Homo sapiens: one gene and its partner. The protein of the gene in region 1 purifies or fractionates together with the protein of each later gene. This does not show direct contact. Each region holds a gene or a part of one and is shown in the gene's direction. Other genes may lie near its edges.

Region 1 (3,500 bases):
AGCACAGCAAGGTGACTACAGTTAATATATTTCAAAATAGCCAAAAGAGAGGATTTAAAATGTTCCCATCACAAAGAAATGATAAATGTTTAAAGTGGTAGATATGGTAATTACTCTGATTTGATGATTCTACAATGTATGCATGTGTCAATATCACTTTGTACTCTATAAGTGTCTAAAATTATTGTCAAAATAAAACAGAAAACACATCTTAGAGTTTTATAACAATATTTATATATTTATAACATTTTATCAGCTGATAGCATTAACTGTTATTCAGAAACACAAATTGCATATAATTATAGAACCTAAAGCTGTAGTATACATAATTCTACATAACTACTCATTTTATATACCTACATACCCTGTAGACCCAAACTTTTATGTTCTCCTTTGACTCACTGCTGCTACATATGGCTGCAGAGCTCCAATTTGACAACTACAATGTGAGTGACTCTCCGGGGATTATGCAACACGGTGGCCCTTTTCGAATCAGTCTCATTTTATATAAACTTGATATTCTTCCACAAATAAGTGCTCCACAAAGATTGCAACATAAAAACACAGTTATAGAAGAAGACATTAGAAAAAAAAAATTAAAAAAATCTTCATTCATGAGATTCGTACATAATTATAGAATTGTAAATCTTTTTCTAGAGCCTTTCAGAAAAAAATGAAATTCACTGAAATGAGATTACTAAATCAGCGTTAGTCTGGGATATCTTCCAGGGCAGAGAAACAGCTTTGCTAAATAAAATTAATGATAAAATGACTCTTAACAAAATAGCATTTACCCCGGAGTCCACACTAGACATGCAAGTATTACCACTGCTCTTCTAAAACTTGTTATAACTAAGATGGGAAGATATAGCTAACTCTGGAAAGAAATACCCAGTTCAGCAAAGATTTTAGCAAGTTGTCAAAACAGGGATTTGGAAACAGCAGTAGATGTGTTTTTCAACAATTGTTTGAATACATTTTAATCAAAATCTGGTTAGGATTCCCAGAATTTCTTATGTCTGTTTTATATCTGTTCATATATTGAGAATTACCTTTGAAGTGGATTTTTAGAAACTATAAGAGGTAAACATGCTGAAAGAAGCAGTAAAAGGTAAAAAGCTGCTCCTGGAATATCTTCTTTTTTCCTATAACCTGAAGGGCAGTTTCTTGGGGAATACACTTCTCAGGATTAGTCATTTTTGTTGTCATTGTTTTTACATACCAACCTTCTGTAATTAATCCTGAGGATTAAAATATACTGCTTCTTCATTGGATACCAAATTGTTTCTACCAAGACAGAATCTCAAATTGTGTTACCAATCTGGAAGCACACTTACTGCTATAATCTGTTGCTTTAATTTGGCAACAGAAGTCTGTCATGGTAGTATTTTTATTTTAAATTTTTAAACATCACGGGCCTACTACACAGTTTTTTCTTTCTTCCTGATTTTTTAGTTCTGCCCCACCAAGGATTCTACTTGCATGTAATTTAGAGCAGGCATCACGCTTTTTCTGTAAAGGACCTGAAATGAATGCCTTTGTAAGACACACAGCTTCTGTCACAACTACTTCGCTTTACCATTGTGTCGTGAGTGCAGACATAGGCAATATATAAATGAATGACTTTGGCTTTGTTCCATAAAACTTTATTAAATAAAAGAAAGTTCCAGCGGCAGGCTGGAACAGCCCCCATGGGCCAGTTTGCCAATTCCTGGTTTTGAAAATCAAATACTTCTACAAGAATTTTTTTATAAAAGTGGCAGTACTCTATTATTCCTTTCCTGCTTCAATTGCAGTTAGTTCGCATAGAGTTTACCCCTACAGTAAGATGTTTATGTACTGTATTAGCTTTTTTATTTTAAGCACTAGCTATTAACTTTATGTTGTGGTAGGTAAAGATTTAGATCTCTTTTCTCCTTCAGGCTCTAAGTCATATATCCCCTCCATCCTCCTCATATACTTATCTCCTGATATCCCCCCTTCATCCTCCTTATATACTTGAATCAGATTAGGTGAACATTTATTGATTATGTTATTGTGACTGTGAGTCATGTACTGAGTTATTACTACTTTTCTGCATAATATTTCTGTTTTCTACAGTTTGTGATAGGTTTATTTTGTTAGTTTTCTGTCTTATCTGTAGTGTAACACCAAACTCTCCATCTGCTATTGATATGTCCTCTCCAGATATTCAGCACACCAAGTATCCCAAACCTAAGTCTCCTGTCACCATCATCCTGGGAAGTTCCTTCTGCCTAAGTCTTCTGTTTCTTGTCTCCTATGCCATTCTTATTATTTGTATCCTTCCTCATTTTAGGGGAGCCAGTAGCTTCTTGGACAGAAATGTACAAGGATGTAAATTTTTTTGAATAAACTGCATGTGTGGAAGTATTTTTCTTCTTCCCTAGGTTGGAAATTCTTTTCCTTCATAATTTTAGAAGCATTAGCTGCTCTATAGTTTGACTTCCAGAATTAAAGTCTGAAACCATTGTGATCTGTGCGTCTTTTCTTTTTAGTTTATTATTTGGTGACTTGTTTTATTATCTGAAATCTTGTAGGTCCCAATATACTAATGTGACTATTTTCATATATTGTTTTCAGTCTTCTTAGCCTGAAAAATCATGTTTTTCATTGGAGTTTCTATATTCTAGCTTTTAATACTCAAGCAAGCATGTTTGACCTATGCCTTCAGCAGCTCAGCTTGTCACTAAGTGACTCAGGATACTAGCAATAACCTTCCTTCCTAAATTATCTTTTTTCTATCTTTCCTCTATTGTATCAGGAAACTCAGCAGCAGGTTGAAGAAACAGGTTCACTTTGCGCTGTACTTAAATGAATGGTCCATGAGTAGACGACATTTCTTGGAAAAGGTTGAACAGAAGCTGTGTCTAATAGTCAGAATAGATGCGTATCAGTTTCCTAAGGCTGCCATAACAAAGTATCACAAATTGAGTGGTTTAAAACTATGTAAATTGGCCAGGCGCGGTGGCTCACACCTGTAATCCCAGCACTTTGGGAGGCCGAGGCAGGTGGATCACAAGGTCAGGAGTTCGACACCAGCCTGGCCAACGTGGTGAAACCCCATCTCTACTAAAAATACAAAAATCAGCTGAGCGTGGTGGCGGGTGCCTGTAGTCCCAGCTACTCGGGAGGCTGAGACAGGAGAATCGCTTGAACCCGGGAGGCGGAGGTTGCAGTAAGCCAAGATCACGCTACTGCAACTCCAGCCTGGGTGACAGAGTGAGACTCCCAACAACAACAACAAAAAAGTAAATTTATTTTCTCACAGTTGAGGAGGGTGAAAGCTTGAAATTAAGGTGTCAGTGAGGCCACACTTTCTCTGGAAGCTCCAGAGGGGAAACTTTCCTGTGTCTTTGAGCTACTGGTGGCTGATGCCAGGATAACTCCAATCTTTGCCCTTAGTGTTCACGTAGTCTTTACTGTGTCTCTCTGTGCCCCTATATCAAAATATTCTTCTCCTTATAAGGAAACCAGTCTTA
Region 2 (3,500 bases), about 55 Mb from region 1:
TCAAACTCCTGGGCTCAACCCATCCTCCCACCTCAGCCTCCCAAAATGCTGGGATTACAGGTGTGAGCCACTGTGCCTAGCCTTGACCACTTTTTGGCTGAGACCAGGAGATTAAAAATGTGGGCCTGCCCTCCTCTCCCAGTTTTAGACTCTGCCTCTGCCTCTGCCTCACATTGCCAGCGCCATGATAGAACTCATGCCTTGGCCGGGCGCGGTGGCTCACGCCTGTAATCCCAGCACTTTGGAAGGCCAAGGTGGGTGGATCACGAGGTCAGGAGATCGAGACCATCCTGGCTAACACGATGAAACCCCGTCTCTACTAAAAATACAAAAAAATTAGTTGGGCGTGGTGGTGGGTGCCTGTAATCCCAACTACTCGGGAGGCTGAGGCAGGAGAATGGTGTGAACTTGGGAGGCGGAGCTTGCAGTGAGCCGACATCATGCCACTGCACTCCAGCCTGGGTGACAGAGCGAGACTCCCTCTCAAAAAAAAAAAAAACAAACAAAAATGAACTTATGCCTTGGGAGAGATTTTACCTCCTCTTCTCTTCTCAAAAAGGTAAGACTGTTCTCCAGGCACAATAATTTAAGCACAGGTTAATACCATGTTTCATATAGTGTGGCACTTATATAATACGTTATGTGATTTTATTTTATTTATTTATTTAGAGACAGAGTCTAGCTCTGTCACCCAAGTTGGAGTTAGTGGCACAACCTCAGCTCACTACAACCTCTGCCTCCTGGGTTCAAACAATTCTCCTGCCTCAGCCTCCCGAGTAGCTGGGATTATAGGTGCCTGCCACCACACCTGGCTAATTTTTGTATTTTTAGTAGAGACAGGGTTTCACCATGTTGGCCAGGCTGGTCTCGAACTCCTGATCTCAGGTGATCTGCCCACCTCGGCCTCCCAAAGTGCTAGGATTACAGGCGTGAGCCACCACGCCCCACCCTGTTATGTGATTTTAAATGTTTCAAAGTCAGATCAAGAACAATGAGAAAAGTATTCCTTTTTCGAGTCTTTCAGTCCTCCTGATTCTATCTGGGAAGAAGTTTCAGTTGGGTGCTACCATATCTTAAAACCTCTCAGCACAGTTGCTGTTCTCTTCTTCCTGGGGAATGCTCCAAGCCTCATTTTTATCATATTTATTTTTATTGGTATCTGCTTAAGTTTATGATCTAAAGATTCCTTTTTAAAAGAAGTTCCTAAGTAAAGAAAGTTGGCATACATAAAATTATAAAATAAGTAATAGTGTAGGTGGTGTGAGAACACAGCATGAGTCACGGTGGCAGTAGGAAAGGCTGGCTGAGGTCTGCCAGTGTCCTAGTATGGCATCCCATCATTCAGTGCCTGTGTTTGAGGCAGGGTTCAAAGGCAGTGCTGTTGAGGTAGTGTTTGTCAACTCAATGATTTCTTGTTTTCCCCTCTATAGTGGAGCACATGATCCAGAAGAACCAATGTCTCTTCACCAACACCCAGTGTAAGGTTTGCTGCGCCTTGCTTATTTCTGAGTCCCAGAAGCTGGCACATTACCAGGTATGCCATCATACTTTTAGAACTGCGTTTCTTTTCAGACCTGGTGCCAAACCACTAATTCTCTCTGGCTTGCATGGTGAAGTGTAATTGCTGCTTAGCCACCCAGATGTTGCCTCCATGCATGTTGGCTTGTGACTTGAAGATTGACTTAATCTCCTTGAGTCTCATCTCCCCCATCCAAATCAGGATCATTATATGTGTATCTTCCCTTGCAGCTTGGCATAGCATAAAGTATGAGCTTTGGCTTTAAATAGATCTGACTTTAAATCAAAACTCTGCTACTCATCTTGAGCAAGAAACTTCATCATTTTTAGATGTAGTTTCCTCATCCATAAAATAGAAATGGTCATAATTTTCTCATAGATTGTGAAGATTAAATTTGGTAGCTGTAAAATGCCTTGCACAGAGCAGGAACTCAAACTTCCCTCACCTCCTCCTCAAAACTTTTTGTGAGGATGAATCAGATGAAAATCTCATAAGTGTTTTTGAGTGCCTTAAGTATGAAGTAGCATTTGGCTATCTTTGATCTTTCTCCTGGGTTTTTGCAGAGCAAAAAACATGCCAACAAAGTGAAGAGATACCTAGCAATCCATGGAATGGAGACATTAAAGGGGGAAACGAAGAAGCTAGACTCAGATCAGGTAATACAGCTGCCATATTGAGCCCACTTGCTTCATGATGAAGCCAGCCAGCAGGTTGGTGTGGTGAACAAGTCAGACTGTCTTGGCTTCAAATCCTGGCCCTGTTGTGTGACTCGGGCAAGTCTATTACTTCACAAAGCCTTGATTTCTTCCTCTATAAAAATGAGGATGGTAATATCAACTACCTTTCAGGATTTTTTAGAACTAAAATTGAGGGCAGATTTATAAAAAGCACCCAATTCAGAGCCTGGCACATAGTAGGGACTCAGTAATGGAGCTGGTATTACATATTACCGCCTAGTGGTTTGTTAGAGCAAGACAAGAGAAAATGGAAAGAAGCCAGGCTGCTTGCTTTCTTGAGGGCCAAGGAAAAGAACTAAGTTCAGCACTTGAATGTTTTGCATAAATAAGCAGAAGGAACACCTTTCCAAATGTCTGCTGTGATTGAGAGGTGATCACATGTGCTTTTTGGCTCAGAAATAATATGAGCATTATGCTGAAGCAACCCCCAATCCCTCAGGAGTACCATCTCATCATGGGAAGAGAAGTTAAGCAGACTAGGGCTCAAAGCTGGCTGTGTGTCTTACTGATCGGGTGAGTTTGGCCAAGTCACTTAACCTCTGTGAACTTCCCCCATAAAGTAGAGATAATGCCTACTTCTTAAGGGTATTGTGAGGTAAAATTTCAATTCCTAGTAGATGCTCAATAAATAAGAGTTTACTCTATAGACTGCTACCTCCTATTATAGTAGCCACAGGTCAGGAAGGTCCTTGTTTATCTCTTCTCAAAATTTACTGGACTCATCCCCTGGTTTCCCTTATTATTTATTTATTTATCCCTGGTTTCCCTCCTTTCTATTTCTCTATCTGTCTATTTGTGAGACAGGACCTGGCTCTGTTACCCAGGCTGGAGTGCAGTGGTGCAGTCACGGCTCACTGCAGCCTCAACCTCCCAAGCTCAAGTGATCCTCCCACTTCAACCTCCCAAGTAGCTAGGACTACAGGCACACACCACCACGCCTGGCTAACTGGAGTGCAGTGGCACGATCTCAGCTCACTGCAACCTCCACCTCCTGGGTTCAGGCGATTCCCCTGCCTCAGCCTCTGAAGTAGCTGGGACTACAGGCACGCGCCACCACACCCAGCTAATTTTTGTATTTTTAGTAGAGATAGGGTTTCACCAGGTTGGCCAGGCTGGTCTCAAACCTCTGATCTCAAGTGATCTGCCTGCCTCAGCCTCCCAAAGTGCTGGGATTACAAGTGTGAGCCACTGCGCCCAGCCGCCTGGCTGATTTTTTAAAAAATTTTTCGTAGAGACAGGGTCTC

Evidence for each region. Proteins that work in one complex are often made in the same cells at the same time.
Region 2: the proteins of SRFBP1 (region 1) and ZNF346 purify together in Homo sapiens (co-immunoprecipitation; one large-scale study listed by IntAct). This does not show direct contact.

The regions. Positions count from the first base shown.
Region 1 is NC_000005.10:122,013,975-122,017,474, forward strand, and holds part of SRFBP1 (serum response factor-binding protein 1), read left to right. Parts: intron 1-3,500. UniProt on the Homo sapiens protein: May be involved in regulating transcriptional activation of cardiac genes during the aging process. May play a role in biosynthesis and/or processing of SLC2A4 in adipose cells.
Region 2 is NC_000005.10:177,039,696-177,043,195, forward strand, and holds part of ZNF346 (zinc finger protein 346), read left to right. Parts: intron 1-1,430; coding exon 1,431-1,534; intron 1,535-2,082; coding exon 2,083-2,175; intron 2,176-3,500.